Regions from separate parts of the Homo sapiens genome. Here all the other regions are linked to region 4. Evidence: fine-mapped expression QTL. A gene starts in region 4. Each other region holds a variant in brackets. All regions are shown on one strand. Distances are from middle to middle.

Region 1 (8,017 bases), 29 kb before region 4:
TAATGAATCTGGGGTGCAGCTGGTGTTGGGATTTTTAAAACTCCCCAGGGGATTCTAATGGGCAGCAAACTTTGAAAACCTCTGATCTGGATGGAGCAGGGAGGGTGTTGTTTATGGGTTTTCCTTCCATCTGTTTTAGTTGGAAGCAACAGACCGACAAGCAGGACACAGACTTCTAAGGGTAATGCTGTTTTTTTTTTTCTTTGAGATGGTGTCTCACTCATTCCGATTGTACAGTGGCATAGTCTTGGCTCACTGCAACCTCCGTCTCCCAGGTTCAAGTGTTTCTCCTGCCTCAGCCTCTCGAGTAGCTGGGATTACAGGTGCTCACCACCACGCCTGGCTAATTTTTGTATTTTTAGTAGAGACGGGTTTTCACCATGTTGGCCAGGCTGGTCTCGAACTCCTGAGCTCAGGTGATCTGCCCGCCTTGACCCCCCAAAATGCTGGGATAACAGGAGTGAGCCACCGTGCCCGGCCTGGGTAACACTTTTGCTGGTAACACCAATAGCTGAATGCTGTTGTCAACATTCAACAAGGTGAATGGACTATGAGGAGGACGGAAAGAAGCCTAAGATTCAAGCTCCCAATCTGTGCCACATGCATCATGTTTGCCACTTAACGGTCAGTCCTGGGAGTTTACAGATGAGGAGCTTGAGTCTTGGCCAGGCTAAGGACTTTGCCTGCGCCTCACAGCTGTGGAATTGTAGAGCCTTAAATGAAATTGATGTGTGACAAGGTGCTGGTAGGAATGAAAGTCCTTCCTGTTGCTTTCAGATTGATTTTCTAAATAAAGTATTTCTGGGGTCAGCTGGTGGAGGAGAGGGCTTGGGAAAGAACTGGGCCCCGACTCCTCTCTGCCTGCAAGATAGAGGGTGGGGAGGAGCTGAAGGCTATTTTAGGCCCCGTCCCCCATCAGATTCTGTCGGAATCTGGCCTCAGCCAGCTGCCTCAAGTGATTTTAAGGAAAAATACCTCTCCCTCTGCTTAAAGACAAATAGATCCCTGAACGTAAAGTGAGTTGACTAGTGTGATAAAAACGGGCCTCCTCCTTGCCTCCAAATTCTCTCACACACACACACACACACACACACACACACACACACACGTATGCACACATACACACACTCAGAGTTACCGCAATTCCACCACCTAGGTGATTAGATTGAGCCAGAAAATACTCATGGGAGGGTAAGTGGGGAGACAATTCCATCTGTTACAGCATATTATAGGTTACAGAGTACTTTTATAGGGGGCTGATCCTACATTCTCAGCAGACCTATGCATCCTGCTAGACAGCAAACACCGTGGGGAATATGCCACAGAGGCTTCTGTAGATGCAAAGAGAGAGCATTTAAGGTGAGGCTTGGAAGATGCTGAAAGTTGCTCTTTAATGGGTAACTTTATGCAAAAGAATTGTCCCACTGGCTTCCAAAGCAGTAACAATGCTGTGAGCAGCTTTTTGCTGTGGTGACAAAAGTTCACTTTCTCCTACTGAGAGTGGTTTCTGCATTCTCAGTTGGTTCATGCAGGAGCAGTGGGCCAGGGAAGAGAGCACCAGGGCTGGTTGGATTCCTGCCTGTCCACTTATGGGCTCCCTCACCTTGGGTGAGGGGATTAGCCTCTGAGTCCTGGTTTCCTCCTATGCATGTTGGGGGCTTCTGCTTCTGGCCAAGACAGGGTAGCAGGGACTGGATTTATACTCCTGCCTGAAACAATTTTTAAAAAACAGACAGAACATATGAAATAATGGTTTTCAAGACACTAGACATTAGGCTACAAGATTCAGGGGTCCCACAGAGCTCTATGGTTGTCTCTGCTTACTACCTGGAGAGTGTTTTCGGCCACAACCCAGAGAGGGGGAACTCGGGCCAGGTGGGGAGAAATGGAAGTAAATTCTGTAAATGTAAGGTTCTTATACTCGATGTGAAGTGGCACAACATCACTTGAAGGTAAATTGTGAAAAGGTCAAGATGTGTACTATAAACACTAAAGCAACTGCTAAAATAGCAGAGTTACAGCTGCTAAGCCAATAAAGAAGATAAAATGGAATAATCAAAAATAGTCCAAAAGAAGGCAGAAAAGGGGAAAAAAATAGATGGAACAAATAGAAAACAACCTGGGGCTATGCCAGGTTCCCCTGCCTCTCCTCCTTGGAGTCAGGAGGTCCCAGCCCTGCCTCCAAGCCACACTGAACCTTGGTTTTCTCATCTGAAGAATGGGATAGCAGTTCTGACCTCTCAGGGATATCCGAGGGTTCCTCGGGAGTGTGGTGCCTGGTGCAGGATGGCTGCTTTCCCTCTTCTGTCTGCCTGGCCCAGCTCCTGCCTCTGCGCTCCTCTCCCCTCTCTTACTTGGGGGTACTTTTCTCCCTTGGACTGCCCCTGCCTCTCCAAGGCCTTCTGGGAGCCAAGTGGCTTGGCCCTGCCAGTGGGCAGGTTGAAGATTTTTCCTTCAAGACCCTCGAAGGCCAGGTGGTCAGGGGTTGGGGGGCATGAAAGTTGAGTGAGACTAAGCTTTTTGCTTTTGTTTTTGTTTTTATTATTTTTAATGTTTCATTGTGGTTTTTTTTGTTTGTTTGTTTGTTTTTTTTTTTTTTTTTAGATAAAATTCACATAACATACAAGGAACCGTGTTAAAGTGTACAATTCAGTCTGGGTGTGGTGGTCCACACCTCTAATCCCAGCACTTTGGGAGGCCAAGGTGGGAGGATCACTTGAGTCTAGGAGTTTGAAACTAGCCTGGGCAACGTGGTGAAACCCTGTCTCTACAAAAAGTAGAAGAATTAGCTGGGTGTGGTGGTGTGGGAGCTGGGGGTGGGAGGCTGAGATGGGAGGATGGCTTGAGCCTGGGAGGCAGAGGTTGCAGTGAGCCGAGATCACCCCACTGCACTCTGGTCTGGGCAACAGAGTGAGACCCTGTCTCAATAAATAAATAAATAAATAAATAAAAATTATACAATTCAGTGGCATTTAGTATATTCCCAATGTTGTACAACCACCAGTTTCAAAACCACTAGTTTCAAAATTTTTCGTCACTCCAGAAAAACACCCTGTGCCCATTAAGTAATCACTCCTCATTCTCTCCCTCCCCCCAGCCTCTGGTAACCACTCATCTGCTTTCTCCCTTTATGGATTTACCTATTGTGTTCATTTCATTTCAAAGGAATCATAGACTCTGTGGCCTTTTATGTCTGGCTTCCTTCCCTTGGCGTAATGTTTTAAGTTTCATCCATGTTATAGCAAGTGTCAGCACTTTATTTCTTTTTAATAGCTGAGTAATATTCTATTGCATGTACATAACACGATTTGTTTATCCATTCAGCCGTTGATGGACATTGAGTTGTTTCTACCTTTCGGTTACTGTGGATAGTGCTGTGATGAACATTTGTGAACAAGGGGAGTCCCTGTTTTCAGTCATTTCGAGCATATCCAAATGCGTGGAGTTGGTGGGTCATACGGAAATTCTGTTTACCTTTTGCAGAAACTGCCAAACTGCTCTCCACAGTGGCTGTACCTCCTTTTAGTTTTCATATTATATTATTCTAAGTGCAAAGATAAGACAACGCCATAGAAAATTTGGAAATTATGCCTTGAGCAATTTTTTTAAAAAAGTTTTCATTTTAAAAAATCATAAAGTTTATATAAATCCATGCTTATTGTAACAATTCAAAGACATTTCTAGCAGAAAAAAGTCTATCTGCTCCTCCATCACTTTCCCCCTAGCTGATAAATGTTGACCCTTTAGTAAGTATCTTTCCAGACATTTTCCAGGCATTGATAGAGTTTTGGGATTTTTCTTTTTACATGAACTTGTCATACTATCCATATTATTTGCTTTGAAATCTTTCTATGCATTTCTTGTGAATTTCAAGTTGGAAAGACTGTCCCAGAGCCAGGCGGGTGGTCCCTGGAGGAGAGACCCTCAGATCTGTGACCTGTCCTTGCTCTGTTAAAAAAAGTTTGGAAGTCTGGGCCACAGGTATGGACAAAGTTGTCCTTGAGTGGATGGATAAAGAATGTATTATAATTTTCTTTTTGTTATCTGCATATATAAATTCTTTGTAAAATGAGTATGAATTGCTTTTATAATAAGAAAAAAAAGTGGGGAAGAATTGAGGGCCTGCAGTCTTGGTGCCCAGCTTGTACCTTAATTTAGCACTAACTTCATTCCTTCTCATTGCATAATGAGTTGTTTATGTGTTTGCCTCCCTTGAGGGAGGACAGGCTTATTCATCTCCTTGCCCTCCCGACTCCTTCCCTGCTCAGG[T/G]CTGAGCCCCATGCCAGGCACACAGCAGGATTGCTGAACCAGCAAGTAGCCCCTGCAGGGTTGTGGTGGAGGCTGCAGAGGAGAGGGTGGGTCCCAAAGACCCCCATATGCCCTCAGCTCAGGCTCCCAAAGGAGAGTGCATAGCCGGGGGAGTCCAGGCCCCCAGGACCAGGCTCCCAGTGGTCACACTCTCTGCAGGGGCACTGGGCCCAGCCTCTGTGGGAAGCTGGGTGTGAGCGCAGGTGCAGTTATTCATGGCAGCCCTGGCCAGAGTACCCATGGCAGGCGGCATCCAGCTGAGGAGTTAATTAGAGCACTGCCAGGAGCAGGAAAGGGGGGCAGGAGGCTTGGAGGCTTGGGCTCCCTTTCCATAGAGATAGAAATAGCTGGGCTCCTGGCGGAGGCGGAGAGCAGTACACACAGGAATGGAGGTGCGAGCAGCCAGCGCCTGGGGCACAGGGTGGGGGTTGTCTTCTTGGGCTTGTCCCGTCATTCTTGTTTGGGAGGGGGAAGGGGAAGGGGCATGTGGTCTGTGGCCCGGAGGGGGCCTGTCCGAGGCCCTTCTTCTCCTTCCTGGGGCCTCCCCATCTGTCTCCCAAGCCTGGCCTGCCCGGGCTCACGGGGGGCATCACAACAGCCCCAGAGCCCTGGCCTCACCTTCCTGCCTCTAGCTTTCCATGAGAAGCAGGCTATGAAGGGGTGGGGTGGGGTTCCAGAGCTCAGGATCATTCTAGCATTTCTAGGGGGTAGTCCCTGGTGGTGCTGGGCAGCTCCGTGCCTGACTCATCTGAAAACACTTTATAAATAACCTGGCAGAGGGACGTGGGCTGTCCACCCCCGTACCCGCCACACTCTGTGAGCAGGTGGCAGCACCGAGGTCCTGAGGGCTTTTGAGATGTCCAGGGCAGGGTTCTGGTCAGAAGCCAGGCCCAGGGGGATGCCGGGAGGGAGTGTTGTCCACCTCTGGTGAATGGCGCTGCGGGGGTTCTGGGCACCATGGAGTCCTCCTCTCAGCTGTGATGTTGTCAGCGCCACAACCTTCGATGGGAGCATTGGGGATTTCTGGCTGGGCAAACTGAGCCACTATGGACTAAAGTTGCTGGGAAACCTGGGATGAGTCACTTCCCTTCTCTGGGAACCCTCATTGGTAAAATGAAAAGGTTGAACTAGGTGAGTACTAAGGTATATTTTTTATTCTCCTTGGTGGGTACAGGTTGGTGTTCCTAAATTAGATACCACAAATATTTACTGAACCCTCATGTCCCTGCACTGTGCTAGGCAGCTCTATGCAATTATTAAAAAAAAATTTTTTTTATTTAGAGATAGTCTTGCTCTGTTGCCAAGGCTGCAGTGCAGTGGTGCGATCTTGGCTCACTGCAGCCTCAACCTCCCAGGCTCAAGCAATCCTTTCATCCCAGCCCCCTGAGTAGCTGGGACTACAGGCGCACACCATTACAGCCGTCTAATTTTAAAAGTTTTTGTAGAGATGTGGTCTCCCTGTGTTGCCTAGGCTGGTCTCAAACTCCTGGCTTCAAGAAATTCTCCCTCCTCAGCCTCCCAAAGTGCTGGGATTATAAATAGGTGAGAGCCACTGCACCTGGCCTTTTTTCTTTTCTTTTTTTCTTGAGACAGAGTCTTGCTCTGTTGCCCAGGCTGGAGTGCAGTGGCACGATCTCAGCTCACTGCCACCTCTGCCTCCCGGGTTCAAGTGATTCTCCTGCCTCAGCCTCTCAAGTAGCTGGCATTACAGTCGCACGCCACCACGTCTGGCTAATTTTTGTATTTTTTTTTTGTTTTAGTAAAAATAGGGCTTTGCCACGTTGGCCATGCAGGTCTCGAATTCCTGACCTCAAGTGATGTACCCACCTCGGCCTCCCAAAGTGCTGGGATTACAGGCATGAGCCACCATGCCCGGCCTCAAATATTTTTTAATAAGGCTCATTTGCTGCTAGTTAGTGCATTGGGTAGGGGCCCATGCCGGTCAGGCCACATCAGGGTCTCAGGCCAGGGCAACAGCTGTATACGTGTCAGTCGTCTGAAGGATTAGCAAGGGAGTGTGGCCACGGCTCAGGCAAAGGCAGAAAACACCTGACACCGAGAGGGAAGGGCACGGTGGGCTCTGATGCTTGTCTGAATTTCCCTCAGCAGCCCCATTCACCAGATGGGCCCTGGGACTCGCTCAAGGTCCCATAGCTGGAAGTGATGGGGGCCCTGGGAGGACCCAGGTGTTCTGATTTCAAGCCCGGTTTCTTGGGAGGAATGCTCATTGTTTCTATATTCTCTATTTGGAAATATCTCAAGTAGACACGATGGCACCAGGAGCAAGAGGCCACTGGGCAGAGAAGGCAGGGTCCTGCGTGTTCCTGATCAGGCCTGCTCTGGTCTCAGGCTGGGGAGGACACTGTGTCCTGGTGCTCGGCGGTGTCTGGCACAGATGGGCGTGTGTGGGTGGGGCAGGAGGAGGAGCAGTTACCCGCAAATGGAGCCTGCGTGCTGGACACGGAGAGTCTCTCCCTTGTCAGGCCTAAGGGGACACCAGGAGCCCCCCGGGCAGGAACAGTATCTGGGCGGCCAGCGGTTGGACACAGGGCTGCAATAGGGTCTGATTTTGTTCCTGAGGAAGAAGAGACATTTGACTGGTCAGCCACAGAGGGCAGACGAGGATTCTGGACGCAGATTTCAGCGTGGCACAGCCTGTGTACTCACTGCTGGGGCACTGCCACCTGTGAGGTGATGAGCTCCCAGTCCCCCGATGAGTGGTCTTCTGTGAGGGTGTGGAGGAGGGGACTCCATGAGGGAAGGGCTGGATTAGGCTGGTGGTCCCCAACATGGCAGCACATCAGAATCCCTGGAGGAGTTTGCTTATGGTACAGATCCCCGAGTCGCCCCCCGAGCCCCCACTAGATAGGACTCCCCAGGGATGAGCTGCACAACCTCCACGTCAGGCCTTCAGAGGCTGGGGCTCCATTTATCCCAGCCTCCCTTACCCACCCCTGAGATACGCTGTTGAGGTTTCAAGCACAGTGCAGCTGCACATGTAGTAGCAGTCCATAGACAGAGAACAAACGGCAACCTCAGGAGACTGCGGATTCAGAGCTTAGTCAGTGGATTTGGTGGCTGCACACAGCTTGGACAATGGCTTCCCTGCAGGCCACTCAAGAGACTGATGTCAGGTGTCATGCCTTTGGGGATTAAGATGCTGAAAGGGTTTTGATATCTTTCAAGGGAAACAGAGCTACAGGGCCTTCAACAAGCTGCTTTGCTCCTGCGGTCAGTCCAGTTCAACAGTAGTCTCTGGCTGGGTGCGGTGGCTCACGCCTGTAATCCCAACACTTTGGGAGGCCGAGGCTGGAGGATTGCTTGAGGCCAGGAGTTCAAGACCAGCCTGGCCAACATGGCAAAACCCCATCTCTACTAAAAATACAAAAATTAGCAGGTGTGGTGGTGCACACTCGTAATCCCAGCTACATGGGTGGCTGAGGAACGAGAATTGCTTGAACCCAAGAGGCGGAGGTTGCAGTGAGCCGAGATTGTGCCACTGCATTCCAGCCTGCGTGACAGAGCCAGAGTCCATCTGGAGAAAAAAGAAACAAAAAACAAAAAACAAACGTGGCCCCTGATGAGGGGGAGCCTGGTGCAGTAGGAAGAGTGCGGCCAGGGGCAAGTCCAAAGCCTCCTCCTGTCTCGCTGTGTGACTTTGAGCTAGTGTCTTACCCCCTCTGGGCCTCTCATTTGTAAAGTGAGGGCG
Region 2 (8,017 bases), 40 kb before region 4:
CTGAATAACCTAAGAATCCACGGTGCTTTGTGTCAGAAGACTTTGGAGAGAGCCGCCCCTTCGCTCAGGGTTTTTAGCTGTCGGACCCAGCCCTGGGCACTCCTGGGCCTCCTCATCTGCTGCTGCAGGGATGCCTTGGCCTGCTAGGCTGTGAGCCTGCCCCATTCTCATGTTCTTGAAGTTCTAGTTATTTTAGTTCATGCTTACTTTGCTCCCGAGGGGCTGAGTCCTAAGAGGTAGTGAGCTTCGATCCCAAGCCATGTCCCTTCCCTGGGACTTCCAGGCCAGGGATGAGGCTTAGATCCACGATGCTATGTCCTGAAATGTGGATGTCACCACATCCATCTTCGAGGGTGCTGGGATTGGGCAAGGCATTCTTCCAGGAAACTTTTTGGTCTCCTGGAAATTTGCAAATTTACCCACCTGCTCCTCTGGAATTACTTCTGTGTACCAAGGGAGATTGGGCGTGGTGATCTTTGTCAGGCCATAGGAGGTCCTGGGCAATGAGTGTCTACTTGCCTCACCTTTACATAACCAAGAGAGGTTCCCAGGAGTCTCTTCCTCCAGCTGAGAATATTGGTGGTGCCTGGCGTGTTGCTGGTTCACCTAGTTGAAGTGGCCAGAAGCCTCGGTCCTGCAAAATTTATGCATTCAACAGTGTTTTTTTTTTTTTTTTGAGAGAGTCTCACTCTGTTGCCCAGGCTGGAGTGCAGTGGTGCGATCTCAGCTCACTGCAATCTCCACCTCCCGGGTTCAAGTGATTCTCGTGCCTCAGCCTCCTGAGTAGCTGGGACCACAGGCGCGCACCACCACACCCAGCTAATTTTTGTATTTTTAGTAGAGATGGGGTTTTGCCATGATGGCCAGGCTGGTCTCAAACTCCTGGCCTCAAGTGATCCGCCCACCTCGGCCTCCCAAAGTGCTGGGATTACCGGCGCAAGCCACCGCACCTGGCCACATTCAACAAGTGTTTATGCAGCACCTCCCGTGTGCTGGGCACTGTCCTGGGCAGTTGGGATATGCCAGTGACCAGTGTGCAAAACAAAGGTCCCTGCCCTCTGAGGCTACATGGTGATGTATAAAGCTCTGTTCTTGAATACAGCACAGTGCTGGGGGACCCAGATTGCCCTGTGTGTGTGTGTGTGTGTGTGTGTGTGTGTGTGTGTGTTTGTGTCCAGGACACTGGAAAGGCTTCCCATAAGAGGAGGCATTTGATGGGGTTTTGAATGCTGAGCGGGATTCACCAAGGCCCACAGAGGTAGAGCTGGGGAAGGGCACCCATGCCTGAAGGTCTGGAAGTGGGCGGGAGCTGCGCAAATTCAGGCTTGGAAGAACCATGTGGCAGGAGCCAGGAATACTCTGGGAGAGCAGTTTGCCCATAGAATTCCCAGTTTCTTGCAAATAAATTAGCTCCAGGAGGGGCCACTCAGGGGAAAAGGTGGCTGTAGGGTGGGCTGGGGCCCAACTCTAAGGGGCTTTGAATGCTTTGCAAAAGGGGTTGATCTGTGTATTTGTAGCCTCATCCTTAGGGCCCCCAGCAGTGGACAACTCTAGGGGGTGGCATCACAGAGGCCTCAAGACGAGTGGCACCCCATATGGTTGGGTCCTGCCCCCTTCCCAACCACTGGTTCCCGATCTCCCCCAGTATGCTCTCCAAGGGCTGGCTCTGTGGGTGCATGTTAGAGAGGAGCATCCTGACTCGCTGTCTCATCCCCACCTGTTCTAGAGATCACATTGAATAACTTTTCTCCTTCTTAGGTGCTGCGTGCTGCACCTCCTGATTTAGGACCAGAATTCATTAGCACCTGTTTTGGGCACCTCCAAGGGTGGGGACGATTCCCCTGGGTCTGTCTTCTTAGTTCAAAGCAATTCTTTGTGTGCAGTGTTCCTAACTGTGGACTCGACCCCCACATTTGAGTTTCTGAAACAGCAGCAGGTGGGAGTTGAGGGCAGAGGTCATCAAGATTGGCCCTTGGACCACGTGAACCTGCATCATCCTGTTGGAAATGCAGATCTCCAGCTCAGATCTGCCGAGTTTGAATCTCTAGGAAGGGGGCCTGGAGTCGGTTTTTGGAATGTGTTTCTCAAGCATTTCTTAATGTATGTCAAAGTTTGAAGACTACTATATATGAGAGCAGCTCCTTAACATTTTGGGAGCTGGGGCTAGGTCTCCTTGATTGGATGCATGCATTTAGCCTTCAGAGATAATGGGATCTGGGCTCAGCTGGCCTCTGCCTGATGTGGTCTAGGTCGCCAGAGTCACTACCTACAAGGCCATTGTTCACAGTGGAGAAAAGGTAATCCCTCCCTCCCTACCTCTCTCTCTCTCTCTCTCTCTCTCTCTCTTTCTTTCTTTCTTTCCTGATGGAGTCTGGCTCTGTCATCCAGGCTGGAGTGCTATGGCATGATCTTGGCTCACTGCAACTTCTGCCTCCCAGGTTCAAGCGATTCTCCTGCCTCAGCCTCCTGAGTAGCTGGGATTACAGGCACATACCACCAGGCCTGGCTAATTTTTATATTTTTTAGTAGAGATGGGGTTTCACCATATTGGCCAGGCTGGTCTTGAACTCCTGACCTCAAGCAATCCACCTGCCTCGGCCTCCTAAAGTGCTGGGATTACAGGCATGAGCCACCCACGCCCGGCTGGAATCTTTCTTTGTTTTTGAGACAGGGTCTCACTCTTGTCGCCCAGGCTGGAGTGCAGTGGCACAATCACAGCTGACTGCAGGCTCAACCTCTTGGTTCAGGTGATCCTCTCACCTTAGCCTCCCAGATAGCTGGGACCACAGTCATGCGCCACTGTCCCCGGCTAATTTTTATATATATTTTTTGTAGAGACGGGGTTCGCCATGTTGGGCTCAAGTGATCTTCCTGCCTTACCCTCTAAAAGTGTTGGGATTACAGGCATAAGCCCCCATGCTTGGCTGAATCTTTCTTATTTGAAACTAAATCTCCTTCCCCGAGATTTCTACCCTGTGGTTCTGGTTCTGCCCACTGGAGTCAGACCAAGTAAACCCAGTGTGTCTTCCAGATGGCACCCCCGCAGACATCTGCAGGCTGCTGTCATATCAAGATCCCTGGATTTTTTGACCAGTTTTTATCTATTATGATCTCTAGACACTTTACTCTCCTGGGCACTCCCTTGAATGATGACTCTGTGCTATGTGCTTTCTATGTATTCTTATTTAACCCTCCCCGCATCCCAATAAGGTTGGCTTTATTTTCCCCATTTTACCTGAGCAAAGGTAGGTCCAAAGAGGTGAAGAGACTTTCCTAAGGTTACATGACTAGTTTGTGCCAGATCTGGGATTTAAACCTAAGGTCAGCTAGACACCAAAGCCAGAGTGCTATTATGACCCCCATTTTACAGACAGGGAAACTGAGGCTTAGAGAAGTCAAGGACCTACCTAAATCACACCACAGCAAGTGACAGAGCTGGGATATGACTCCAGAGCCTACATTACTTTTTTGGAGACGGGAATCTCACTGTCGCCCAGGCTGGAGTGCAGTGGCATGATCATAGCTCACTGTAACCTAATCTCAACCTCCTGGACCCAAGGGATCCTCCTGCTTCAGCCTGCCAAGTATCTGGGGCTACAGGTGCATGCCACTATGCCTGGCTAAGTTTTTATAAAAAAAAATTTTGTAGATATAGGGTCTTGTTATATTGCCCAGGCAATATAACAATTCCTTGCCTCAAGTTTTCCTCCTGACTTAACCTCCCAAGCAACTGGGATTACAGGTGTGAGCCACTATGCTTGGCAGAGCCTGCATTCTTAATCATGATGACAAATACTGCCTTCCCACCTAGTAATCATGCCTATATCAGGGGCTTCGCTGCTGAACACAAGGGCTGCTAAGCACATAGTTAGCAGCCAAAAGAAATATTGGATAATAGGATTATTGATATTATTATTAGAGATTGACACTGTTCCCACCTAATATGACATATATATATATGGACAAATATACCTGTCTTATATCAAAGGGAATTTTTTTTTAACTTGACATACTGTAAGATGACCAAAATTGCTGTTGCTTGGGTGGGTGCAGGAAGATATTTCAAACCATCCTTGGGAGTGACTGGTACCATTCAATACCATCAGTAGTGTTTTTTTAGCTTTTTAAATTAAAAAATACATATTTTTGTAGAGACAGGGTTTTGCTATGTTGCCCAAGCTGGTCTTGAACTCTTGAGCTCAAGCAATCCTCTCACCTCAGCCTCCAAAGTGCTGGGATTATGGGGGCGAGCCACCACACCTGGCCTACCAGAAGTGTTTACTGAGTACCTAGCACAGGCCCAGATGCACAGGGCCCCTGAATCAGATCCTATAGCTGTCAATTCACAGTCAAACCTCCTTCCTTGTAGACTGAAAGAGATTTTGTTCTGGTATCAGGTAACTGTGTTTCATGACCCCTTCTCCAGCTCCAAAGGCCATATATTAATAAGCCCATACCATTTGTCTTATCTCTGATTACATATATTTCCAGTCCTCTTGCTAGTG[G/A]TTGCCTTAGGTCTGGGCATGTGATAGGTATTCAGCGGTCTAACAATTGGCCAATGAGTCATCAGGAGATGTGTGCATCGAGAGAGCAATGGGAAAATTGTAGTGGCTTTTAAGGCAAGGCGTACAAAGGCCTCTTCCTGTCTTTTGGATATTATTGCGTGAGAATGAGATGTTTGTCACTGTCACAGGCCTCTATGACCGGGTTGGGTAAGCCCAGAGAATGCCAGAAAAGGTGACCCGAAGCCCTGATTTTGTTGCGCCACTGAATTAACATAATCTGGATGTCCCCTGCCTCCAGGCTTCTTGTATGAGATTATAAGTGTCCTTATTACATAAGCTACTTTCAGTTGGGCATTCTGATACTTGCAGCCAAAAGCATAACCTAAATGCTTATGGTCCCTAAAGAGCTTACAGGGCTCCTGGGGAGATAAGGAACACACTCAGGTATCATTAGGTCACCATATGGCAGCAGGAGGTAACAGCACCAACCACACAGTGACAGGCAGGACATTAGGAGAGAAGGGTGAGATCTGGGAGAAGGAAGAGGGGAGGTGAAGCGTGAGTGGGCTTGGGATTCAAAATGACTTAGAACTTGGGCTTTTTGTTGTTGTTGTTGAGATGGAGTCTCGCTCTGTGGCCCAGGCTGGAGTGCAGTGGCACGATCTGGGCTCGCTACAACCTCCGTCTCCCAGGTTTGAGCGATTCTCCTGCCTCAGCCTCCTGAGTAGCTGGGACCACAAGTGCACGCCACCACACCTGGCTAATTTTTATATGTTTAGTAGAGAGGGGGTTTCACCAGGTTGGCCAGACTGGTCTTGAACTCCTGACCTCAAGTGATCTGCCCACCTTGGCATCCCAAAGTGCTGGGATGTGAGCCACCACACCTAGCCTAGAACTTGGGCTTTGAAACCTGCCTCTACCGCTTACTGGCAGTGAAGCCTTGGGAAACGGACTTAACCTCTCTTGGCCCCAGTTTCCTCATCTGTCAAGTGGGGATAATACTAGGGGCTAAATCATGGGGCTTTGTGAGGATTTGAAAAGCCATTGAGCATGGTGCTTGGTACATGGCAAACTCTCAAATGAAAGCCATTGTGATGATTACTCTGGAGACATGAACCACTGTGAGGACCCTGGCTGCAGCCTCAATCCTGCCACCTGTCCCGAACCAGCTGAAGCACTTTCCTCCCGCTGCAGGTGCAGGCTCAGGTGGGCATGAAGAAACTCTTTAGCAAAGATCTTCCTCCAGGATGCTTCTACTTCTTCTTGCTTGTGCTATGCTCTTGTTCTATGTGGTTCTGGACGTCAGGGCTCAGCTCTGACCTGGTACCCAGACTTCAGGCTTCCTATTGAACCTAAATTGGTCCCTAGAATTGTGTCTTTTTTCTAGCCATGAATTTGGGCTCCCTGGTCTTGAAGATCTTGAGCTACCCTTTTTGACCCGCCCCAGTTTGATGCTCTGAGGGTGGAACCTCCTTGCTGATAAGTTGGCTCACAGGTGGCTGTGGATTGGTGCTTCTCCAGCTTCTGCCTGAGAGCACCCCTGGAGACAGAGGCGTGTGAACACCATTCAAGTCAGCTACGAGTGAGAAGGGTGTCTAAAGCCTTGTGTCTGATCTTTAATTCATGTGGATTTTGCAGCACTTCCTGACTTGAACAAGTCATTATAATATAAAAAGTTTAAGATAATTTACCATCAGGAAAGAATACAAAGAGTGGCTGCCCTATTCATTAATGCATGGGATGCAGCTGCAAAGCATCTAGCTATTTTTTTTGTATTGCACTGAATTGAAAAGAGATCACATTGCCTCACAGATTAGCTTTTCTCCTCTGTCCAAGGTTACAGTATGTTAAAAACCCAGGTCCATGTAACTCTGTGGCTATAAAGGGCAACAGTTCTTTGTATGGCAGCTTCAGGTAATCGCCGATGAGAGACATCTGGAATACCACCAGAGCAGTGGGCCCGTGTAGCATGTCCAGCCTTCTGTTGGCAGGCTGGATAGCCTGGGAAATGATGAGAATACTCTCCCTGACCTGGTGAAGCTGCAGAACTCTGTCTCTTGCCACCCTCCAGGTCTTCAACCAGCCGGCCCCTGCTTCTTCAACCTGCTCTCATTCATGTGACTTGAATCCTGCAGCCTGTATCTGTCTGCCTCTGCCCTTTGAGTCGGATAGGATGCAGGTAACAGAAGACCCCATGGACAGTGGCTTAAACCACGATGACACTGAATTATCTGAGAAGTCTGATCCAGAGTTGATGAGCAGATAAAAAATGTTGAAAGGATCCACGCTCTTTCCATCTCTCTGCTTAGTCATCCTCACTGTGTTTGCTTTTCTTCAGTTTGTTACTTTTTTTTTTTTTTGAGATCGAGTTTCGCTCTTGTTACCCAGGCTGGAGTGCAATGGGGCGATCTCTGCTCACTGCAACCTCCACCTCCCAGGTTCAAGCGATTCTTCTGCCTCAGCCTCCTGAGTAGCTGAGACCGCAGATGTACACCACCACACCCAGCTAATTTTTGTATTTTTAGTAGAGACGGGGTTTTGCAATGTTGGTCAGGCTGGTCTTGAACTTCTGAGCTCAGGTGATCCGCCCACCTCGGCCTCCCAAAGTGCTGGGATTACAGGCATGAGCCACAGTGCCTGGACAAGCTTGTTACCTTTTGATGGCAAGATGGCTGCCACAGCTTCAGCCATCGTGCCCTCACTCAACCACATTCAAGGCAAGAAGGAGAAGAAAGGGACAGTTTCTTCCATTAAATGTCTATCTCTTTTATCAGGAAGCAAGAAGCCCTCCCTCAGATTTGTCTTTATTTTTCACTGGCTGGAACTGTATCTTGACGGCAAGGGAAAATGGAAAAGTAAGAATCAGGGAAAAGCAAATGAGATTACTTTGTTTGTTTAGCCCAATCATGATTCATCTTCTGAGGCTGGAACAAATATCAGAGTCTGTAGCAATAAAGAGAAGGCAGTGACTTTAGGGTAGGCACTAACGGTGCCCACCAGTCTTTCTAATTTCCCATGTCACCCTCAACTTCTCAGGCCCACCCCTGGCCTGCCTGAAGAGCCTCAGGAGAATGCCCCCTTCTTTGTCAGACCCTCTTTGTAGCTATTGAGGCCCTCTTCGTACTTTGTTTTGAAATCTGTCATAGGGAAGACATGTCCTCTTTCGTCAAATCTCACAGAATTGCGTTCTGTGCCAGTCTGTAGGTGACAAATGACTGAGATAGAGACAGCTCTCACCCCGGCACATCTCAAAGACTACTGTCTCTGCGAACAGAGATTGTTCTGAAGAAAAGGCTGATCATTAGCCCCCCACCACAAAATTATTCCCCAAATCAAGTTTGGGTAAAATGACTATCCCTAGTAATTGGCCATTTTTATAGACAGTTCCGCGCATTCGCATTGCTTTCGAATGCAGGGTGGCCTAGGAGGGGCACGCTTTCTTCTGCAGGTAGAAGGAAGGGCACAGACTTGGGAGCCCAGGTTTGAGTCCTAGCACTGACAGTGTGACCTGG
Region 3 (8,017 bases), 29 kb after region 4:
CTGTTTCTGAGTCTCAGTTTCTCTGGTAATAAAATAGACTCATAACATTTATATTCTGGGATGGGTGTGAGTATTCATGGAGACATGGATGTAAAGTTCTTGGCATATGGCAGGCATTGCATAAATGTTAGCTGCTTTCCTGGAGGATGTTTTTCTTCTCTCTTGCGTCTCATTTTCCCTCTGGTGGCCTATTTTTTGACCACTTCACTGTCAACAGTAGTTCCTTAGAGGACAAGCCACCGTGGGAGAGGCTGGCGTCATCTGTGGTGTTAACCAGCCCATGTTCTCTTGCCTTCCTTCCAGGATATGCCTGTTGCTACAGACACAACAGCAACTTCTGGCATGTTCCTGGCCCCTGTGGCTGGGGTTCTGGCCTCAGAGAAGACTGGCCCTGGGCACAGGGAGGCAGGGAGGGGCTCGGTTTGCCTTCTGGGCTGGAAGTCTGGGTGGAGGTTCAGCCTGGAATCTGTTGGAAGAACTTGGCTGGCTCCCTGCAAAAATGAAGTGCTCATCTTCCTGTCTACACGGGGCTCTTGGAGTCTGGAGCGGAGTTCCTGCTTCGGCCGAGGTCCAGTGGCACTGGCCTGGGTGTGATACCCAGACCCTGGGAGGGGGCCATAGCAGCCAGAGTGACACATAATCAAACTCCTGGCCCTCAGAATGGCACCTTCCCAGAGTAGGGTTGGCAACCGTGTAGATGCTTGAAGAGGCCTAGTGGATGGTTTACCATTCTGCCTCAGTGAAGGTTGGCTGAGCCCGCCTGGCGAGGGGACTCTCGACATTAGCAAGCACTGCCACCTCTTCTTGCAGACTTGAACGTGACCGTGGGGAGGACTATTTCAGATCACTAGGCCTCCAGGGGCTCCATTTTTCCCCTCCCAATCCTGCTCTTGATCCTGGGCAGCATGAGTGACTGTGGCTTTTGCTTAAACCAATTCACCATCCCAAATGAAGAAGGGAGTGGTAGTTGAGAGTGCCAGCTGACAGCCAGACTCCTGGGATCCAGTCCTGCCTTCGTCTGTCTGGGCTGTATGACCCTGCACAAACCATTTAGCTTATCTGTAAACGTGGGATAATTACAATACCTTCCTCTTGAGATTATTATGAGGATTAAACGAGTTGATTATTGTAAAGAGTTTAGATTCAACCCAGACACGCCAAGCCCACTAAATGTAAGCTATTATTGTCATTTTAAGGGGTATGTGCCTGTGAAGAGGGAGTATTCTTGAGCAGAATAAAAATGGTATTATTCTTATTATTTCTTTTTTGTTGAAAAATGGGGAGCATTTTTGTGGCAGCACTGGCCCACCTTCCCACTGGAGTGAGTTGTGGCTGCCTGGTGCAGGCAGGTGGGGCACCAGCTCCTCCATTTGCATAATCCCTTCCGGGTCCATTTCATTACTTGACTGCCCCTAAAGGCATTTGTTATTTTTGTTACAAATTAAAGTGTAGCATAAGGCAACAAAGATGTCAGGAGCCTAGGTGGGGCTAAGGGACAGGGAAAAGACAGACTTATCTGTGTGCAGGAGGGGACGGAACGGTTTGGGCTCCCACGGGTCTCAGAGAAAGGGATTAGAAGAAAGAGGGGAATGGGAATGCTGAGCCTGGGTAGCTTGGGGGTGGCTTTGCACCCGCAAATCTGTGGCTGGTATAGCACAGACCAGTAGATGCATTGAATTTGAGGCACCTGTTCAAAAAGCCTGTACTGCTAGCTCAATGAGGAGGCTCTGTTTTTTTTTTTTTTTTTTTTTTTTTTTGGTAAGGGGGTAGGTAATGTTGAGTGGGTTCACTATCCACCTGTCCTCTGTATCTTTCAGCCTTGTATCTCTTGCAACACAAGCATCTTGGGGGCAGGGGACTTGTCCACCTCATTAGAGGGTCTCTATCACATTCCTCATGGGAGGAACCTAGTGCTTGTCATACAGGATATTCTCAATAAATGCTTGCTGAATGAATATGTAAATGAATGAATGCAGAGAGCTTGCTTTCTGGTATAGCAACCTGAGAATTCAGCTCAACTTTTTAGAAAGCCCCTTGGTGTCCCACTCCCATCCCATGCACTTGGCTCCTCTATCTGGCTGGAGGGAAGGCAGCGTAGGGGTGGCAACAATGTTACCTTCACTTACCATTACATACCTAGAGCGTAGCTCAGTACCTGGCACATAATAGGTGCTCAACAAATATTACTTTCACTTACCATTGTATGCCTAGAGCCTAGCTCAGTACTGGGCACACAGTAGGGGCTCAACAAATATTGCTTTCACTTACCATTGTATGCCTAGAGCCTAGCTCAGTACCTGCACATAGTAGTAGGGGATCAACACATATTACTTTTACTTACCATTGTTACCTTCATTTACCATTGTACGCCTAGAGCCTAACCAAATATTTGGCACATTGTAGGTGCTCAATCAGTATCTGTTGAACTCATGAATGAATCAAATGGAAGCCTTATCCTGGAGTCTGAGTGCTGCAGTGGTGCTCTTATCAGCTGTGGGAACTTAGAACTCCTCTTTGCAACTCACTGGACCCCACTCACCCAACAGGATCACATGACACAGATATACCCTGTTATATAAAACTCATTGTGAAGGCATTCATGGTTGTCACTTATAAGGCATCATCTGAAGTCTGCTGTCACCCTGAACCCCCTGATGTCCTTGGCAGGCCATCTCTGTAGTTGTCTTGTCCCTTATTTCTTGTGCTGTTGTGTATGGACAGTCAATGGGCTCTGTTATCTTGTCATTTACCACTGCATTTGGAACCATTCCTCCATGGGTTTTGGGTTTTACTTATCTCACTATCTTAGATCCACTTTGTTCATTTTTTAAAAGGCAGCAGCTTCCAGAAGGACTAGGGAATAGTCTGAACAGTGACAGAGCTGCCTGTTACCCTCTGACAAGATGGTGTGGTGGGAAAGGGCTCCAGCCCTGGCCTGGGGAGCAGTGGGCTCCATGACCTTGGGCACAGTGACCTTGAACACTTCAGCTCTCTGAGCCTCATCTCTGGAGCCCTTTCAGATCTTTAGTTCTATGTCAATACACAGGAATGGGCTTTCTAGAAGTGGAATGATTTTTAAGTTGGTGTCTGCTTTTCAGGGAAATTGTAGCTGTTTTAATTTAAAAACTTTTCATTTATGCTTCTGTTCTAAGTGTAAAAACAGCACTAGCTACAAGGAATTCATATTTTGTGATTTATTAGGAGTATTACCATGATATCAGAAAA[T/C]GGCAGGGGCTTTTTTTTTGTTGAATATGTTTTTAAAAGGGTTGCTGCATTCTTAAGTGTAATTTTATTATATCCTGGGATGACTTTTTTTCCCCATGAAGAATAGATCTATGTTTTATAACAAGCCTTCACTACTGAGGCTGGTCGTGAGCATATTCTGTGGCGTTACATCATTTCCAAAGAGTGTTCTGGCTACAGGAGCATTCTATTTTCCAAGGAGATTGCAGAGACCAAGTAGCAAGGTTCTTTCTAGAAATCAGAGTAACCTGAGATGAGCCAGGCCTATGTCCAGCCAGACATTGAGGAGTCTTAGAAAGGAAAGGCCCTTAGGGATATACCAGCCCAACTCTCTTGTCATCTACATTAGGGAAACTGAGGCACAGCATGGAGAAGTGACTTCCTGCAGGTAAAAGGCCTAGAGTACACACTCCATTTCTGCCCCTCACTCATCACACATCCTTCACTTGGCCCAAACCCTGGTCCCCCAAATGTGAACATTGTTGTACGCAACCAAACCACTGCTGGTGCCTGAGGGTGACACCTGCTTTGTGTTATGATCTGCTTTCAAAGCATCTCATGGTGGAAGGGCTGCTCCTAATTCAGCATTCCAATCAGTTCTACTTGCCCCAGACCCTTTTTATCATCAGTTTGGCACTAATATCTAGTAGAGAGTTTATTGGCATAATTTCTTCAGAAAAGAGGCTGGAAGGCTTAGCAAGTTCAAATGATAACATTTTTATCAAGAGTCCCAAAGGACCACCCTTTTCCCTCCCATCACCACCACCAACACCAATAAGGCTTTCTCTAGCACAGGAAGTCAGGGGCAAAAAGCAGAAACAGCACAGGCCAAACCAGCAGGCACATGGTACATTATCGGATCAACCGGCAAGCAACCACCTGGGAGCCATCTTTGTTAAGGGCAAAATAATGAGCTCACGAGACACTGGAGGATACAAGACTATCTTGATTCTTCTGAAGGAGTGAGGGAGACTGGATGGGGTATTGGAGACTTTCCTTTCTGTTTTCTCAGAAAACATGCAAAGAAAGTCTTCACAAACAACTAAGGTTGTGTCAGTATCGCCCAACCTTCCCTTTTCAAAGATGGCCACCCCTGTTGTCCATTCAGAGGGAGCACACAGCAGAACCTACTGGGCGTGGAGAGAGAGACAAGCAGCAGGAGAGAGATTTAGTTTTCCACAAAGGCTGTTAGTTTTGTTTTGTTTTTTCCTTTATTGATGGGATTTAAAGTGCATATAACTGAAGGCAAAGTCCAAGGCCTAGAGAAAGATATGAGGCCCGAGAGAGAGGCTCAGAGATTCTAGAGGCGGCTGAAGAATACCCACCTAAAAAGGCCACTTGAGCTGCAAAAACGATGCGGCGGGGAGACAGAAAATGGGAAAAAGAGAAAGGGGGTGGGGACGGGGTGGGGGTGGAGGAAGGAGTTTGGGAAGAAGAAATTACCAGTTTAGAAATTCAGCCAAAGATGAGTAGTAGGAGTTAGTTTATATCCCAGCTATGAAAATACGGGCTGACCTCAAGGTAGGAACAGTTGTTTTAGGAAAAGTAAGAAGAATGATAGCCTCAGGCCAGGACACAGCATCCCCTGGCCCTTCAGGTGATGGTAGAAGTGATGGGGCTTCTCCAAGCCTCTGTCATGGTCTTCCCTGGAGACCCAATATGGGTCAAAGGAGACTCTATCCAGCCAGGAGAAGGAAGGGGCTGGGGACCTTGATCTGGGGCCTACCCAGAGCTCCCCAGTGGAAAGCAACATCCTTTTGCTACTGGCCTATGGCTGGGGCCCCACTCACCCACGCAGGCTGTGCCATCCTCGTTGGGCTCGTAGCCCCGACTGCACTTCTTGTTGGTCCGGCACCTGTAGCTTCCATAGGTGTTGACACATACGGGCTTGTCTCGAGGGCACACGAATGGGAACTGGATGCATTCATTGGTGTCTGCAAGGCGAGGGGAACCACTCACCATGAAGGTGTGGGGCAGCAAGTACCAGCCCAGGCTCTGCCTGCCTATACACTGTCTGGCTTTGGGAATGTGCCTTCCTCGCAGAGCCTCAGTTTCCCTGCTTCAGTTCCCTTGGCTGGCTCCTCCTGTACTTGGTCTCTACATGCTGGGGGCAGGGGGTGGGCACTCAGGCTTGGTCCTGGGTCCTCTCTTCTGTCTACTACAATCGTTCTAGGTGATCTCTTCATGCATGGATGATTCCGAAAGTTCTATCTCCAGTCACAACCTCTCCCCGTGGCTCCAGACTCACGAATACAATAACCCATGACCTACTTGACAGCTCCACTTGGATGTCTAAGATGCACCTCATGCTTAATATGTCCAAAATAGAACTCCAGATTCTGCCCTGCCCTGCCCATATTCTGGCCCTCTGTTCTGTCTTCTCTAGCTCAATCAACACCCCCATCATCAATCAGCTGCTCAAGGGGAAATCAGAGCGACCCCTGATTTCTCCGTCTTTCTTGCCCCCTGTGCAATTTCACAGCAGAGCCTGTCCACTCTGCCCCGCAGTCCACCAGTCCACCTCTCTCTGTCACCTCTTTCTCATTCCTCTGCCACCACCCAATTTCCTGCCATCGTGACCTCTTGCCTGGATTTCTGCAGCTGCCTCCTCACAGAATACCTGGCTTCCCCTCTTCCCTCCAATCCACTCTGCAATTCAGCAGCTGGAGGGAGCCTTTAAAAATGTGAATCACATCATGTCACTCCCCAGTTTAGCTTCTAAGGCTCCTAAGAGCAAAATTCAGACTCCCTACAGGGGCCTCATGGACTCTCCATCATCTCCAGGCCATACTGGCATCCCTCCTGCTCCTTCAACACACAAAGCCTTTGTCCTGTCTCCCGCTTTTCACTCCTGCCCTTCCCTCAACTCTTTCTGGGCCTAGATCCTTCTCATCCTTCAGGTCTCAGCTCAGAGTCTTCCCCCCGAGGCCCTCCCTGACCACTCTCTCTGGAACAGTCTCCAGGGAGCACCTTGCTCAGAGGGTTCTGAAATCATCTTGTCCAGGTGTGTGGTCATGCGTTCAGGGTCTGTCTCCCTCCACTAGAATGGATGCCCCTCTTGTGGAGGCGCGGGGGTGGCACTTGGCCTACATCCCCAGCTCCCAGCATGACACTTGCTGTGTACGAGGCACATAACTGCCTGTTGGGCGATGAAAAGGAAGAGGAGGCTGATCTCAAAGGGTCCTTCCTGCAGGCAGAGAAGACTCTGGAATTTCTATGCACCTGCACTATGTGTTTGGAGTGGGGCTGGGTGGGCATGTGGAGAGTGTAGGGGAGTCATTTCCTCCTCCAGCCACCCTTGGCACCACTGCTCCTCCACCTCCCCACCTGTGCTCCTTTGTTCAGACAGTGCCCCCCACCAGAACCATGTCTCCCCTCTCTGTGACTGCCGAACTGCTCCTCATTCCTCAGGGCCCAGCTTGGACCTCACTTTCTCTAGGGCACCTTCTAGGACCCTCCCTAGGCTGGTTTAGGGCCCCTGCTTTGTCATCTCCAAGCCCCTGCCCTCCCCCATCTGGGCCCTGATCACACTGTGTGGTCGACAGCTGTTTACTTTTGTGGCTCTCCATTGGTTTTCAGCTCCTGAGAGTGGTATCTGTCTTGTTTACTCCTGTATCTCAGTAGCAAAGGGTTAATGAGCAGCTGCAGAGTAGACTTGGGAAGAATGCTGGATGAGGGTTCAAGGAAGGAGGGATCCTTGGCCTGACCCCTCCTTGCTGGTCACTGGGATGGAAAGTGTTGGGGGTGAAGGTCTCCTGGACACTGAACTTCTAGGCTGCCCCTTCCCATTCCAGGCTCTTGGGGACTTTCAGAAGGTTCTTGGACCGTCAAGGAGCTGCCATCCTGGTAGTGCTGCAGCTACCTGCCTGCCCCAGTACTGCACCAGGCTGCAGTCTCCGTTCCACACTGTGACCACACTCCATACACTATTTTGCCCCAATGCCCTTGGCAATGCACACCCTTGCCTGCCAGCCCCCTTGCTTGCTGCTCCACATGGACTTGCTGGCCATGGCATGTGGCTATTCCCCCTGTGCCAGGTTGGTGGTGTGTCTCCTTCCCATCTGCAGTTTCTCGGTACTCATGGCAGGAAAACACTGCCAGTTTCCAGAACCGCAGTGATTCAGCCTGTGGGTCACTAATATCACTCCCACCCTGGTGAGTCATGTGGTGGTTGTCTTGGCATCTGGAGTCCCAGGACAAACAACACCCTCCCCTGTCCTCCTTTCTGCCCCTTGCTTGCACCCTGGACCTTGGCATGAGTCAGGCGGGCATTCCCCAGGGAGATTCCGGCCTCTACCCCATGCCCTGGTGACTGAAGGCAACTCACCCATGCAATGGCCATTTTCCTGCTGGGAGAATCCTTGGCCACACTGTAAGGTGGGCAGAAGCAGAGACATGAGTGAGTTGAGAAGGTCCCATCCCAGGTTCCCTCCTAGTCACAGCCACAGAGTAGTTGTCACCCTAACCACAGTGTGAGGCATGCTCTGAGCTCTGGGCCTGGGGGGAGCCCCCTCCCTTGTAAGACCCTTCCTTTGCGCTGAGAACAGAAGGCTGGCGGGAAGGCCATGAATGGATACGGTTCAGACTCTTGCTCATTTCCCTGTGCAAAGGATCCACACGAGCTGGGACGTCTAACAGAACCTGTCCCTTCTGTAGCATCACCCTGTGACTGAGGCTGGGTCTGTCAGGGCAAAGTGTAATGAGGGCTGGGAGATGCTTTTTGAGGTGTCTGCTCACTGCCCACATTCACTTCTCCAAGAACCTCTCCCTCACA
Region 4 (8,017 bases):
TATGTCATGGATTGTTACCCCCATTACTATATAAGTTCAATAAGGACAGAGGCTTTGCATTTTTAGTCACGACTGTATCCCAATTTCCTAGAAGAGTGCCTGATACACAGTAGGTGTTCAACAAATAGATGTTGATGAATGGATTTGTTGAATGGCCTCATCCAGATATCTAGTCATCAGGTGAAGAGAATGGTTTCCAGAAGGTTGTCTAATTGATGTGATAAAAATCAAGTGGGAGGAACTGTGAAATTTACATGGAGATCATCAGATTATGTGTTCTTTTATTACCAGTGACCACTGCAGGATTCATAGATATTCTGTTTGGTCCTTTATGCCAAATCCTATGCCAAACTATAAGGTAGAATGAGACACCCGCCTTTAACTTCTTTAGCATGTCACTTACACTCTGGGACTCAGCGTTTTCATCTGCAAAATAGGCAGCTGGAGATGTGGTCATTGCTCTGCTAGTCTATGGTCTACCAGATGCTGGAGGGAGGCAATACAGTTAGGAGGATCAACCACACAGGCTCTGGAGCTTGACTGCCCATGTCTGAATCCTGTCTCCATTCCCCACAAACCCTATGACCTTGGGCAACTTACTCAGTTCCCTCATTTATAAAGTGGGAATAATAAAAAGATCACAAGAACACAACTCAAAGAGTAATTGTGAGGATTACGTAAGATCATACATGTAAAGTGTGTAGCATATGGGCTGGCACATGGTAAGTGCTCACTAAATGTTAGCTACTAAAAATGAAAAGTTCTGGGAAAATTTTTGAGGGGTCATCGCTATTAATGTGTTTTAGGGGTGACAAACTGTTCTAGAATATTAGATAATATGGGCATTTTAAAAGCATGATAATTGGCTGGGTGCGGTGGCTCATGCCTGTAATCCTGGCATTTTGGGAGACTGAGGTGGGCGGATCACCTGAGCTCAGGAGTTTGAGACCAGCCTGGCCAACATGGTGAAACCCTGTCTCTACTTAAAATACAAAAATTAGCTGGGTATGGTGGTGCGTGCCTGTAATCCCAGCTACTTGGGAGGCTGAAAATCACTTGAACCCAGGAGGCAGAGGTTGTAGTGAGCTGAGATGGTGCCACTGCATTCCAGCCTGGGTGATAGAGCAAGACCCTATCTCAATAAAATAAAATAAAATAAAGCATGAGAATGGTGTTGTGCCTAGTTGGGATAACGCTTTTCTTCTTGGGAGATGCATGGTGAATTGAAGTACTTACAGATAAAATCTCATTGAAGTACTTACAGATAAAACCTCACGATGTCTGTCACCTTATTATTATTATTATTATTATTATTTTTGAGACGGAGTCTCGCTCTGTCACCCAGGCTGGAGTGCAGTGGCGCAATCTCGGCTCACTGCAAGCTCTGCCTCCTGGGTTCATGCCATTCTCCTGCCTCAGCCTCCCCAGTAGCTGGGGAGTAGCTCCCCAGGTGCCCACCACCACGCCCGGCTAATTTTTCTGTATTTTTTAGTGGAGACGGGGTTTCACCGTATTAGCCAGGATGGTCTCAATCTCCTGACCTCATGATCCGCCCACCTCGGCCTCCCAAAGTACTGGGATTACAGGCGTGAGCCACCGCGCCCGGCCACGATATCTGTCACCTTCTGATAATCTAGGCAAATATAGCTCTGTTTTCATATCTATCAATAAAGCAAATGTGGCAAAAAGCAATTGTTGGAGCTAGGTAGATGGCATAGTTTATTGTACTATTCTTTCAACATTTTGGTATGTTTAAAAATGTCAAAATAAAAGGTTGGAGAAAAAACAAAAGGTCCTAGAAACAGTCTAGTGAAATCCAACACTCACATTTTACAGAAAGAGAACCATAAGCTCAGAAAACAAGACAGTTGCTCGAGGTTATACAGCTGGAAAAGCCTGGGCCAGGTCTCTTGGCCGCCAGGTTCTCCCTGTGTGTGGGCTTCAGACTCTCAGGCAGCAGTGAGCTGCAGAGGAGCACACCCCACCACCCCTCAAAGAGACCAAGGGGTATTATGGGTATGTAAAAAGGCACTTGTGTTGGTGTTTCCTTTTTTTTATGTCTATTTTATTTATTTATTTATTTATTTATTTTTTGAGACAGAGTTTCGCTCTTGTCGCCCAGGCTGGAGTGCAATGGTGTGATCTCAGTTCACTGTAACCTTTGCCTCCCGGGTTCAAGCAATTCTCCTGCTTCAGCCTCCTGAGTACCTGGGACTACAGGCGGGTGCCACCATGCCTGGCTAATTTTTTTTTGTATTTTTGGTGGAGATGGGGTTTCAGCATGTTGGCCAGGCTGGTCTTGAACTTCTGCCCTCAGGTGATCCACCCGTCTCGGCCTCCCAAAGTGCTGGGATTACAGGTATGAGCCACTGCTTCCGGCCTTATTTTTATTTTTTTAAGAGACAGGCTCTTGCTCTATTGCCCAGGCTGGAGTACAGTGGCACAATCATGGCTAGCTGCAGCCTTGAACTCTTGGATTCAAGTGATTCTCCTGCCTTAGCCTTCTGAGTAGCTGGGACCACAGGCACACATCACAACGCCCGGCTAATGTTTTCATTTTTTGTGCAGACAGGGTCTTGCCCAGGCTGGTCTTGAACTCCTGGGCTCAAGCAATCCTCCCACCTCAGCCTCCCAAAGTGTTGGGATTACAGGTGTGAGCCACTGCACCTGGTCTCCTTTTTATTAAACAAATAGATCATTTAGTTGGAATTTATGATGTCAAAAGTGCGAAGGTGGCACCAGAGCCAGACCTGCCATCCTTGGAGAGTGAGCATACCGGTTTGGCACCATCTGCTTGTGGTTTTTGAGTGGTGGTGGTAGTGGTGGTGCGTGTATGTAAACTCGGGTTGCAGAGGAGAGAGGGAAGAGTAAAGGGTGGGGACCAGGTCCAGGAAGAGCAGCAAGGAGAGACTGGCTTCAATTCTGGAGCTGCCTGAAAGAAGGGACCCCAGGCTATGGCTGAGAACGAAATGTGGGCACGTATTTAAAGAAAGGAAATGATTCTCTGCGGTCGGCAGGATCTTTGTCTAGCTAGTGGGGTTCCAGGAAGTGCAAAGGAGAGGGGAAAAGAGGGGCCGTCCGTGCAAGCCTGACTGTGTGTATATGGGGGGGGGGCACACAGAGAGGAAAAGGGAGAGAAAGAAAAGAAATTATTCTAAAGAGGAAGCTGGGGGCGGGGCGAGGGAGGGGTAGAGCCGGGGCACTGGGGGTGGCTGGAAAGGTAGAGAGGCCTCACCTGCGGGCCTGCGAGCGGCTCGGGAGCGGTCAGCCTTGCAGGCTGAAGCGTCTTGCCCCGGAAAAATTCCTGCCCCACTGTCCTTCAGGCTGGATGTCCCGGGGGCCACGGAAGCGAGCGCAGAGCTCCGGGGCTCTCACGAGGGGGAGGGCAGGAAGGGGAGGCGGGGCCTCGCGCGGGGCGGTAGCCGAGCCTGTGGCCCGGGCGGGGCTCCTCTCCGGCGGCGCCGGAGTCTGGGGGCCGCGGCTTCCCCCTCCCGGCCAGCGGCGGCTCCTGGCCCCTCCTCCCCCGGCCGCCCCCATCCCCGCCGCCGCCGCCGCCAAAGCTAAACCCGGCCGTTGCCTGCAGGAGCCGCGGCAGCGGGCGATCGGGCCGTGAGGAGCCTCGGGCGCGGCCTCGCCTCCCGGGCCCGGCGCCTGCCTCAGCACAGCGGACAGCGCCGCGCCCCTTGCCTGGACCCAGCCGCCCGCCCGCCCCCGGCCCACCTGAGCCCGGGCCCGCGGCGCCCGCATCAGCACTGCGGACAGCGCCCCGGGCCCCAGCTCGCCGCCACCGCCGCCGCCCACCTGCTCCCGGGGTCAGCACCGCGGAGACCCCCCTCGCCCGGCCCCGCGACAGCCTCCGAGCGCCCCCGGATCATGGCCACCGAGGTAGGGGCGAGCGCCCCACCCGCAGGCAGTGCCCGATTGCCGCGGGACCAAATGCCCTAGGGGTGGGCTGGGCAGGAGTGGGAGGCGGGAGTTGGGGGTGGGATGGGGTGATTCCCCAGGTCAGGTCTGGAGGGAGGAGGTAGGGGCTTAGTGAGGGCTCATCTCCCCCTTGCGTGTCAATCTTCCCCTCGCCCCACCTGAGCCCCCAAGCTGTCCGCGACACTTGTTGGCATTAGCGCCAGGGTTGCTTCAGGGCCCCAGGCTGGGGTTTCCCCTTCCCTGGACTTCACAAGTCCTGAAACCGCTTTCCTAGAGGGTTGGAGACGCGTGTGTGTGCGTGTGTGAGGGGAGGGAAGGCGGCTGTCCGCTGTTGCTATGCAGTCAGCTTCTGAACCCAAAAGCTTGGCTAAGGGATGACAGACTTACCTCTACATCCGCATTTCCTTTGCGGGAGGGAGGGGACAAAGACATCCTCAGGCTGAGAACCCAAATGGTTGGTCTCCACTTTTGCATATCACCCTTCTTGCTTTTTTACCCCATTCGAGTTTTTTTTTTTTTTTTGTCCCAGGGTGTCCAGATTTCCCCTCCATCTGATGGGAGTTTCTGCCTTCTTCAAGGTGCACTGATAGGTGTGTCACCTTCAAGCACTTGAAGGCTGAACCACGGGGCCTGTTAGCTAAGGGCAGAATCTTGGTATAATGCTTGAGGTCGAGGATTCCCCCCTCTACCCCTAGGGATTGCCCTTTCCCCCCTCATTTCAGGAGGGAGATTGGGCTCTTTATGTTCCCACTTTATACATGATAAAGGTGATGTGTGGAAAACGAAAGGACTAATTTGCTACTCCACACAGCATGTCAGCAGCAGAGCGGAAAGTTTTTGCCTTTGAATTTTTGGAGCGAAACTCAGGACATCAGGGTCTCCCCAGTTCTGATGTTGACTTCCTTTGTGGTGTCTCCCCATTTCCAATCCAGCTGGCATACACTGGGGGAGAGCAGAGGCCTGTGAATGATTCAATGCAGTGCTTCTGGGCATCCTGGTGAGCAGTGTGACATTAATACCAAGTGTGGCTGTTGTTATTCCACTCAAGTTTCCACCACAGAACAAGGTGCTGTTGCTTGGCATTGCTTGGCATTCTGACAAGGCACAAGGTTAGCTAGGCGGAGAGTTGCCCCTCAGGACTTGGTGTGAGGGCAAGCCCTGGGCAGACCCTGGGAGCTTGGTTTCTAGAGTAGAGGAATGCAGAGTACTCACAAAGCACCAAAGACATGGAGGACAGCAGGAAGAACAAAGGGAGAAACCAAGGAGTTGGTTACCTTCCAGATAGGGCTGCCAGACTGCAGCAGAGGCTGCTGTGTTGGACAGAAAAGGGGAACTTCAGCTACATGGGCATGGCTGGGCCAGCAGCGTGGGCAGAGAAGGCAGCTGCCTCTGCGATGTGATCTGACAGATTCCAACAGGCCCATCTGTCCCAGGATGTCTGCCATGGCCCACAGATTCCAACCAGCAGGCTTCTATCTCTATGTCAAGACAGCGTTTCCAGGAGGCTGCTATGAGACATGTGTGACTCTCCCCTGGGAGGGGCTCTGCTCATAACGCCTCTGAAAATATTGCGCTTTCCTGTGTACAAAGCACTATCGCATAAGTGATCTCTTTCAAGCCTCAGAGCAGCCCTATGAAGTGGGTAAGGATGGTGTTATTATGCCCAATTAACAGATGAGACAACTAAGGTTCAGAAACTTGCCTGGTCCCTGTGAAGGAGCCAAAGAAGGCATCATTATCCCATTTTACAGATGATGGAACTGAAGTGCTGAGACTTATTCAGGAAAATATGGCTAAAAGGTGGCAGGGATGGGATAAGAACTTGAGTCTTCTGCCTCTTTGGCCAGTGCTTTTTTTTCCTGCATCCAATTAGCCTATTGTGTCACCTGATAGAGAGGAGGGCCCTCCAGGTCTTGATGTGAAGCTTTGGTGGAGAGAGGGATGCAAAGGAAGTCATGAAGGGCTGGAGTGTGGGGACTCAGGCCCCCTGCTTGGCCTGGCTGGGTTGGTTTGAGGGCAGAGGGACAGAGGAAAGTCCCGGAGTGATGGGGAGCTGAGGACAAACATTCCTCACTTCACAATTTGGCCTTGGGTGGACTCTGATGGCAGAACTGAGGCAGGAAGCCTTAGCTCTGCCAGGGCACAGGACCTGCACGTATTCTGGGTTGTGGGGTGAGTCATTCTCCCAAGGCTGTTTTTACTGTTAGAATTGAGTTGAGATTACCAGGATAAACTTGTTGGGAGAGGGAAAACATCGCTTTAAGTTCCCATGATTATTCTGTTAGGATTCTCAATAGGAACTCCTCAGCTCTAGGAGAAGCTGTATTGAGAGAAGGAGAGAGGGAGAGGAAGGGGGTGGGGAGAGGGACAGAGAGGGAGGGGTGAGGGAGAGGGAAGAAATTCATGGGTGGAAACTGGGTCTTTTCTGTTCCCTAATTTCTGTTTAGGAGTTAGCATTAGGGGAGAGGTGTCTGTAAGGAACTCAGAGGAGGGATGGAGCCTCCTGAGTGATACACTGACCTCATTTGGAGAGCTGCAATGAGCCCATTTTCTGAGCAGCAAACCTCTGTGAATGTGTGTCACTGGGAGCAGGGTCTGCCCTGGGAAATAGTCCAGATGGCCAAGGACAACTGGGAAGTGCCTGGCTGGGAGGGGCTTCTCCAAGTGGTGGGGTTTGGTCTCTAAGAGATTTTTAAATGCATCCAAGTAGCGTTATTCAAGCAGGGTGTTTGGAGGTTTGATCTTTGAGGCATGGAATTAATGATGAGTAGACAACTGGGTCAGGCTTGAGCACTGGTACAGGCTGAGAAGAAGGGAGGTCTTGTGGCTGGTGTTTTATCCTTAGGCCTGACCTGGCTGTCTGTGACTCATGATCCTCACTCCTCCTTCACACCCCAGCCAGGAAGCAGAGTGCTGGCATCAGCGGAACCTCCTAATTCTCGATGCCTCACATGCATCCTATGGAATGAGATGGTTTTTAATGAGGATGAAGATGGCGCCAGGGGGGCACTCCTGTTGGACTTGGGCAGACTGGACCAGGAGCTCATTTGCACTCTAGAGCTTGTTCCTCTGCACCCCAGCTAGTTGACTGTCAGGTGAACAGGAGCCAAATGTGTGACCTGTGGTACCCACTCTCCAGGCAGACTCCCCCTCCTTCTCATACTGCAGTTTGAAAATTGGTACCCATGGGTCTCACCACTGATTTTCTTCCTTATGAAATGCTTCTCGGCCCTGTCTTCACTCTGCTGCCAGTGAGCCAGGGGTGGCAATGGGAGAGAGGGGCAGGGTTGAGGAAGGTGAGAAGTGGAGAGAGGCTCAGGTCTCTGGGTCAGTTAAGAACCCCCTGGGAGACACCCAGGGGAAACACAGAAACTGCAGCTTCAGAGAGAGTTGTGCACATATTTTGATATCCTCTGGTAGGATTTCAGAGCATCACGGATCTCTGCTGAAAACCCCACCAGCTTTCTGAAAACTTAGTAGCTGGCCAGTGGCCTGGAGCCTGGCTTAGCTCTTGCCCAAGGGGCCCCAGCCATGGGATTCTTTATTTAGAGGTCTTAAACTAGCAGCTCTAGAAATGAGTCTGGTCCATGGGTGTGCCTTACTTAGTCTGTTGAGTGCTTATACATTTTAAAAATGTATTGGAAATATTCAAAAATCAGAATATTTGATGTTAAAAAGATCTAGATTTCTGGCTTCTTTTGAGACACCAGAAGTGCTGGCAACCTGGGTATACATTCCCACGTGGCAATAGTCATCTGTCTCCTTGAGATGGGGCACCAGTTTTCTAATTAGCCCCAGGCCCCACCTGGCCCACTTATTGCTCAGCCCCTGTAAACATTTGCATTCATAATCCCTGATAAAGCCTCTAGAATGTCAGAGATGAAAGGGGCTTGAGCAATGATGTAGTTCCAGTTTCTTAGTTTCCAGTTGAAGAAATGGAGGTGCAGAGAAGGGAAGACTTTCCCAGGGCCATGTGGCCCAGGGTCAGGTCTCCTGCCCCCAGGTCAGTGGGCCATCTTTCCACTAGGGCTTCCTGGCACTTCACACTCAAGCCACCATGAATGGAGAAAACCAGGAGACCCTGCCTTGCCTT

Which allele goes with the higher level. Alleles are on the strand shown, and positions count from the first base shown. SD is a standard deviation of normalised expression in the study named.
As copies of G replace T in region 1, the expression in subcutaneous fat of the gene that starts at base 3,413 in region 4 goes up (small effect, 0.21 SD a copy in GTEx).
In carriers of allele G in region 2, the expression in visceral fat of the gene that starts at base 3,413 in region 4 tends to be lower than with A alone (small effect, 0.35 SD a copy in GTEx).
As copies of T replace C in region 3, the expression in unexposed skin of the gene that starts at base 3,413 in region 4 goes down (small effect, 0.15 SD a copy in GTEx).

What was found. PIP is the estimated chance that this variant, and not a neighbour inherited with it, causes the effect.
Region 1: its variant is the best candidate, but not a certain one, in a credible set for the expression of GOLGA7B in subcutaneous fat (GTEx, PIP 0.82).
Region 2: its variant is the best candidate, but not a certain one, in a credible set for the expression of GOLGA7B in visceral fat (GTEx, PIP 0.53).
Region 3: its variant is the best candidate, but not a certain one, in a credible set for the expression of GOLGA7B in unexposed skin (GTEx, PIP 0.83).

Annotation. Positions count from the first base shown.
Region 1 is chr10:97,817,250-97,825,266 of GRCh38, forward strand. It overlaps LOC107984260 (a long non-coding RNA gene), which reads left to right and starts at 4,648. Exons shown (of 3, transcript XR_001747563.2): 1 at 4,648-5,439. The variant T/G (reference allele first, on the strand shown) is at 4,270.
Region 2 is chr10:97,806,071-97,814,087 of GRCh38, forward strand. No RefSeq gene overlaps it. Among named protein-coding and RNA genes, the nearest start is that of SFRP5, 38 kb to the left of the region's middle. The variant G/A (reference allele first, on the strand shown) is at 4,506.
Region 3 is chr10:97,875,216-97,883,232 of GRCh38, forward strand. It overlaps CRTAC1 (cartilage acidic protein 1), which reads right to left. Exons shown (of 15, transcript NM_018058.7): 13 at 7,571-7,613; 14 at 5,034-5,177. It overlaps MIR3085 (microRNA 3085), which reads right to left and starts at 682; the gene lies at 598-682. RefSeq lists enhancers at 609-1,109, 6,789-7,988 and a silencer at 7,277-7,571. The variant T/C (reference allele first, on the strand shown) is at 3,226.
Region 4 is chr10:97,846,431-97,854,447 of GRCh38, forward strand. GOLGA7B (golgin A7 family member B) reads left to right here and starts at 3,413. Exons shown (of 5, transcript NM_001010917.3): 1 at 3,413-3,885. The coding sequence starts at 3,874. GOLGA7B-DT (GOLGA7B divergent transcript) reads right to left here and starts at 3,368. Exons shown (of 3, transcript NR_108035.1): 1 at 3,236-3,368.